2 linked regions of the Homo sapiens genome follow. The protein of the gene in region 2 purifies or fractionates together with the protein of the main gene of each other region. This does not show direct contact. Each region holds a gene or a part of one and is shown on either strand. Other genes may lie near its edges.

Region 1 (3,753 bases), on a different chromosome or scaffold from region 2:
GGCTGGGCATGGTGGCTCACACCTGTAATCCCAGCACTTTGGGAGGCCGAGGCAGGCGGATCACGAGGTCAGGAGATCGAGACCATCCTGGCTAACACGGTGAAACCCCGTCTCTAATAAAAATACAAAAAATTAGCCAGGTGTGGCAGCATGCGCCTGTAGTCCCAGCTACTTGGGAGGCTGAGGCAGGAGAATGGCATGAACCCGGGAGGCGGAGCTGGCAGTGAGCCAAGATTGCACCACTACACTCCAGCCTGGGCGAAAGAGCAAGACTCCGTCTCAAAGAAAAAACAAAGAAACAAACAAAAATCAGTACCTAGGTTATCTGCTGCCAAAAACAATGAGGAAAACAAAAAGTAAACCAAGGGGGGTGGCCTAGATGGATTTCACTGCTAAAACTCTATTGCTGTTTCCAAGTAACTCAGCCTTTGACTTTAGCACTAATTTACCTCTCACAGAGAAAAAACTGGTATGTTCAATAAATCATGTGACACAGTGTCGCTTGAGTCTCTTCACATTTGCTATGACACAGCTTCTTCACCTCAGGCCAGCCTAATAGCCTTCCAAATTTATAAGCTTACCAAGGTCTCCACTGAGCAGAGCTTCTGCCAGGGGTGGATTGCGTTCCTTCAGCAAGGACAGCTCATGCGGGTTGGCCAGCAACATATCTCGGAGCAAGGCTGGATTGTCCAAGCCCTGAGGAGATGAAGTTATTTCTCCAGGAGATGAGTGGGACTGCTGTGTTCCTGGTGGCTGGCGCTGCCGGGGACTTGATGTGCCAGGCACAGCTATACTACTGAAATCTATTCGGGGTAAGTCTGTTGGGGAAAATCAATTCAGTTTACTCAAATTACTCTACAAAAACAAGCACTTGAAGGAAACAGCAGAACACTTGCTCATACATGGTATATGACAGCAGCAAAGGTAACTGTAGACTTTAACCTTGTTCTTTCTCATGATGACTCTGAATATAAAGACTGCCGGCTGAGAGTGAATCGATAGAAGAAGAAAAATAGGGGGAAGGTGATGGTAGTAACTCCAAATTTTTAGCTTATAAAATATCTCACAATAGACATCAGGTTTTTAATTTATGTTTTTAAATCATTAAAGTGGCCAGGCGTGGTGGCTCACACCTGTAATCCCAGCACTTTGGGAGGTCAAGGTGGCTGGATCACCTGAGGTCAGAAGTTCAAGACCAGCCTGGTCAACATAGTGAAACTCTGTCTCTACTAAATATACAAAAATTAGCTGGGCGTGGTCGCAGTCACCTGTAATCCCAGCTACGCAGGAGGCTGAGGCAGAAGAATCACCTGAACCCGGGAGGTGGAGGTTGCAGTGAGCCGAGATGGCGCCATTGCACTCCAGCCCAGGCAACAAGAGCGAAACTTCATCTCAAAAGAAAAAAAAAAAAAAAAATTAAAGCTAGTTTCAATAAATATAATTGCATAAGTCTGGATGTTGTTCTTGAGAAAAATCCTACTCTGGTCTGACATATGGTTCAAACAGCCTTGACGCTTGGATTAAAGAATTTTTTTTTTTTTTTTTTGACACGGAGTCTTGCCTTGTTGCCCAGATTGGAGTGCAATGGCACGATCTTGCCTCACTGCAACCTCTGCCTCCTGGGTTCAAGTGATTCTCCTGCCTCAGCCTCCCGAGTAGCTGGGATTACAGGCGTGTGCCACTACGCCCAGCTAATTTTTTGTATTTTTAGTAGAGATGGGATTTCACCATGTTGGCCAGGCTGGTCTCGAAATCCTGACCTCAGGTGATCCACCCACCTCAGCCTCCCAAAGTGCTGGGATTATAAGTGTGAGCCACTGTGCCCGGCCGGATCAAAGGATATTATATATGTCAAGTGAGCAGCATAAATATTAGATGCTAAATTCTGCAAGTCAGTGCTAAACGTATTGGCTCAGGGAAGTTCTTAATAGTTCTCTGAATTTATACTTTAATCTGTGCATCTCTGCTAACTCTTCTCATGCCCTTGGGGAGCTAAACAGTGTCATCATTTTATAGAAAAGAAAGAAGAAAAGGGACTTGCATAGGTTCTCAGTGCTGAATACACCAAAAGCTACCACAGTTTAGAAGCTACAACTCCCAGGTTCTATATGCCAGGTGGAACTGACCTTACTAAAATGAAAGGAAGATAAAAGGGAATTTTAATCCTTACACAACGGACTCACATATTGTATGACCCCATTTATATGAAATGTTCCAAATAGGTAAATACATAGAGACAGAAAGTAGACTTGTAGTTGTCTAGGCTGCGGAGACTAGGGGGAAATGGGAAATGACTATAAATGGGTATAGGATTTCTTTTTAAGGTAATGAAAATACGCTAAAATGGATTGTGGTGATGGTTACACAACTCATGAATATAGTAAAAAAAAATCATTTAAATGCATGAATTCTATCTCAATAAAACTGTTATTTAAAAAAGAAAAATGAAAAAGAGAAAAGTAAACAAGGAGAGCCAGAATGAGGGGCTAGGCCTGAGTCAATCGACATTCCTTCAACTCCAAAAAATATAGTTGATGGTCAAACTTGTCTGAACAACTGAATACTTTTCTTAAGGATAACTGTGCTTAATGTTATAAATGACAGTACACTAAGCAATTCCACAGTGATCAGAATTATAGCACAATCCTTGCACTATTAAGGATTTTAAATAAACTAAAAAATCAAAAAACAAACAAACTTGTCTCAAGTCTGGGACTATCCTGAAGCCTTTTTGGACCTCAGATAGAAAAAGAGAATGCTTAAACTCATGATGTAACATTTCTACCCTTTAGCAGGGGTTCAACTAGCCACTTTCTTCAACTCCCAACCAAGGAAATGGTGAAGTGAAGAGGATGATCTCTGTGAGGTAGTTAATCTATACCAGCCAGAAAAACATATATGGGTGGGCCCTCTTTGCAGGTCAAGAAATTTTATCTCCACTCCTGTTATACATTATCTTGAGAGTCCATTCACTTCAGAATAATTCTCAAAAACATGTTTACTTAATAGACCAGATCACTCCTGCCCCAACCTGTTACAGGCTCTCTTGTCCATAAACAACAATGCAGAGGAAAAAAAAAAAGAAGTAAATTCCGGAATTAATAATCTCATCAAATTAACCAAAGGAAGATGTGGTTTTTACTGATTGTCATAGTTGTTTAAATACGTTTAACTTCTTCAGAAAGAAGTTTTAACTTCTTTCTAAAGTTTAACTGTGGCCCCAAGGGACTAATGTCTTCCAGATCTGGTGGAGCCGGTCCTTGATGGTCTCAGTAAGTTCCAGTTTCAGGCTGAATGGAAACACTGTGGTTAAAACTGCAGTCAGTCTGTCATCACCCAGACTCTGCCAGCATCTGTCACCATAAACTTTAAAACTGGTGACCTACAGGCTAAACACTATTTAAGAAAATCTATCTGAATATGGCAGCGAATGGAAAAAAACCACACATTTCACCAAGCTGTTTCACATTAAGACCTTATAATCATTTTGTGGATCATGAGCCACTTCAAGTATCTGAACAAAGCTATGACCCTCTCTCTATCCAGTGCACACACACATTCACATCCACACAATTCTGCATATTATTTCAGTGACATAGAACCTACTAAATCCCAATGCACAGAGTTCAGACTATAAACATCTATTATAAAAGCAGCATCAAAGATAGATAAACGTTTCTTTGTATGTGATTAACACAGCTGGTAGGAAAGAACCACAACTTGGTGGTCAAGCTGCTTAATGTTTATCAAGTT
Region 2 (3,753 bases):
ATCGCTTGAACCCGGGAGGCGGATCGCACCACTGCACTCCAGCCTGGTGAGAGAGCGAGACTCCGTCTCAAAAAAAAAAAAAAAAAAAAAAAGAAAGAAAAAAGGATACACAGTACTAATTTGCTAGATGGATGCTGCAGATACCCTGGTGGCCATTTAGACATAATTTTTAAGTCGTCTTTCTGACGTGGATTCTGCTTTATGCTAAACTTCAACAAGGCAGCTACTAACCTAAGCAGTCCCTGCTTCTCTACTCTTCCTGAAATGTGGCTGCTAGAGGCATCTAAACTCTAACCAGGCAAGTTCAAATATTCTGCCTCCATCGCCATCAAGAGCTTCTAAAGGAAATGAACACTATGGGAAGTGCTGTATTCTGGGTGAAAATAGCTACAGTTCCTCAATCTGGCACCCACACTGCTTAAACATCTCTTCTAACCAAACTATAGAGTTTGAAGAAAAGAGAGGTGAGAGGAATCAGACTATAGTGCAGGATACCATAGAATCATAATTTGAGCAAGAACTTTAAAGCCACTCTCTCAATCCCTTTACCCAAGCTACCCAGACAGAAACTAATGGATTTCTGTGGTCCACAGAATGAACCAAACTAGAAAACAGAGGAAATGGTAGGGGTCTGCTTTCTTTGTAGCATTTATTCCCAAGAGAGAAATCCAAGGTCACTAGCTAGCAACAGAGCCACAACTAGAGCTTAGTTAGAACAAGGGTCATGGATACCATTCACTTTTTCTTTTACCCCAAAAGGGCCTGAAATCATTCTACTCCATTTTAGTCCTCATATACAGTCTATAGATAAACATGGACTCCTGAGTCAAGCCCAGTATACATGTCTCTATCTCTGACCTTGGAAATCCAAAAGGTCACCAATATTTGTGCCTTCTCTTTGCTTACTAGCTGAGTATATAACACGTGACCCATTCTACCCCATGGAAACACAGATTGTTCTTCAGTTTGCAGTTGCTCAAAAACATAAGGCAGGCTGTTACACTGCCCCAGGCCTTCTGTGTTCTATTTCTTTGCCTTTGCTCATGACCCAACAAACAACCTATTCCTCATTATTATCTGTTTTGTGGATTAGTCTGAGATAATGGTTTCTCAGCTGCTCACGGAGGCTGCATTTTGTTAGAAAGGATTCACAAATGGGCAAGGAATTAGACCAGATAACCTGTAAAATTCTTCCTACTCTGAGGTTCTACAAAGCACACTCTAGAGGCAGCCTTCTCTCCATACCATCTCACAGTCAGCTGGCTCAAAGGGAATGGTAAAGGTGTAAATAGATGCCAGTCTCCATCCTTATCATCACATCAGGTTAGAGAAATCACTTCTTCCGCTGGACTCCTCTGGCACATCTGACTATTACATCTTGGCAACTAGCACAGGCTTTCTGGTGGTGTTACTTATCTTCTTCTAGAATTGTCTATTCAGCATCTACATTTAAGTAACTAATTGGGACCCTAAACTTGTTCAAAAATCAAACTCTTCATTTTTTTTTTTTTTTTTTTTTTTTTTTGAGACAGAGTCTCGCTCTGTCGTCCAGGCTGGAGTGCATTGGCACGATCTCGGCTCACTGCAAGCTCCGCCTCCTGGGTTCACACCATTCTCCTGCCTCAGCCTCCCGAGTTTCCCGAGTAGCTGGGACTACAGGTGCCCGCCACCAGGCCTGGCTAATTTTTTGTATTTTTTAGTAGAGATGGGGTTTCACCGTGTTTGCCAGGATGGTCTTGATCTCCTAACCTCGTGACCTGCCCGCCTCGGCCTCCCAAACTGCTGGGATTACAGGCATGAGCCAGCGCGCCCAGCCCGCAAACTCTTCATTCTTATTTGCCATCCTCAACCTGCTCCCCGCTGCAAGTCTTATCCACTTCAGCAAGTGATAATTCTGTTCTTCCAATGGCTAAGTTAAAAACCTCATGGTCTTCCTTGATTACTCTTTCACTCTTAATCCAATGCATCAATTACATTTGTCAGCTCTGCCTTCAACATATATCCAGAACCTGATCCTTCCTCCTCTCCTTCACAGCTTATCACACTGCTCTGAGGTACCATCAACTCTCACTTCAATTACTGTATAATAGCTTCCTAATCAGTCTTCCTGCTTCATCTACTCTTGCCCCTTTACAGTGTAACCCACATAGTAGCCTGAGTAGTCTTTTTGTAAAATAAGTCGTATGTATCATATCACCCCTCTGCTCAAAATATTCCACTCGTTTCCAATCTCAGGTTAAAACCCAAATGCATAGGTATGCGCTGAAAAGAGTGGAAAATAAAAAAAATAATAATTTTAAAAAACCACCCAAATGCCTGCACAATGGCCTCCTACTACATCTCTGATGTTATCTTCTATCACCCTCCCCCTTGCTCATTTTGATCTAGCTACACTGGTCCTCTTACAGTTCTTCAGTTATATCAAGCACAGTGACACCTCAGTCCTTTGCACTTGCTGTTCCTTCTGCCTAGAACACTCTTCCCTGAGAAACTTTGCTCCTTAATTCCCTTCAGTATCTCCTCAAATGTAATCTTATCAGATAGGCCTTGCCGGACAACCCTGTACAAAATAGCCAGACTCCACCCCACCCCAGTCACTGCCTTCCCTATTCCCCTTACCCTGATTTATTTTCTCCATAGAAAATATTTATTATTATTACCTTATATACATTTACTTAATTTTACTTTCTGCCTCCTTCCTCCCACAAGAATGAAAGTTCCGTCAAGGCAGGAACTCAGTTTTGGTTCACTATTATATCTCCAAAGCTTAAATTATTGCATGACATGTGTAGTAGGTACTCAATAAATATTTGTATATTAAATTAACTGATCTGTCCTTCCCTGCCCCCAACCTATAAACCTGTTTATAATGAGAAACTTTTCTGTCTTCCTATTTGTGTCTTAGCCCCTAGACTGTGTCCTGAACACAGCAAGTATTCAAATAATGTTTGCTATTACGAGGATGCAATCACGACTCTGCAAATCTTCAGTTTGTGCCAGATCTTGGTGTTATACTGGTATTTCACGCTTCTCTTCTAAGCCTCTGAAATTCTCCAGCCCATGATTTGTGGTGATATGGATAGCTAATCTATAGGGCACACCACACAGACCTGCTCTAATAGACAGAGATTCTGTTCAGGTATTTTATGGTAAGTTTGCTTTACTGTGTTCAACCATCTTTCCCCCAGCATCATTCCTAATTCTAGTCAGTTTTGAAAAAGCATTTAGCTATGATCAGAAGCAATCATATGTAGGAAAGAAAAACTCTATTGCCAGACAAGTAAGAATATGGCCTAATGCCTACAGGTAAGTATAATATCATTTAGGAAAGACAGCATATTACCACATAACATGACTGTTTTTAAAAATTAAAAAGTCCTTAGCACAATGAGAAAAACTTTTATGAACCTGGTAGCTAAAACAAGATAAATTACAATAGGCAAATTTCCAAGAACGGAGATGTTTTTCTCCAGCTTCACTGAGTTAAAAAAAAAAATCAGGGCTGGGTGTGGTAGCTCATGTTTGTAATCCCAGCACTTTGGGAGGCTAAAGTGGGCAGATCGCTTGAGACCAGGAGTTCAAGACCAGCCTGGGCAATATGGCAAAATCCCATCTCTACAAAAAATACAAAAGTTAGATTGGTGTTGTGGTGTGCACCTGTAATCCTAGCTACTCAGGAGGTTGAGGTGGGAGGATCTCTTGAGCCTGCGAGGTCGAGGCTGCAGTAAGATGTGACTGCAGCTGCATTCCAGC

What was found.
Region 1: the proteins of NRIP3 (region 2) and DDI2 purify together in Homo sapiens (affinity purification with mass spectrometry; 2 studies listed by BioGRID and IntAct, with this or other methods). This does not show direct contact.

Annotation. Positions count from the first base shown.
Region 1 is NC_000001.11:15,627,390-15,631,142, reverse strand, and holds part of DDI2 (protein DDI1 homolog 2), read right to left. Parts: intron 819-3,753; coding exon 582-818; intron 1-581. UniProt on the Homo sapiens protein: Aspartic protease that mediates the cleavage of NFE2L1/NRF1 at 'Leu-104', thereby promoting release of NFE2L1/NRF1 from the endoplasmic reticulum membrane.
Region 2 is NC_000011.10:8,997,287-9,001,039, forward strand, and holds part of NRIP3 (nuclear receptor-interacting protein 3), read right to left. Parts: intron 1-3,753.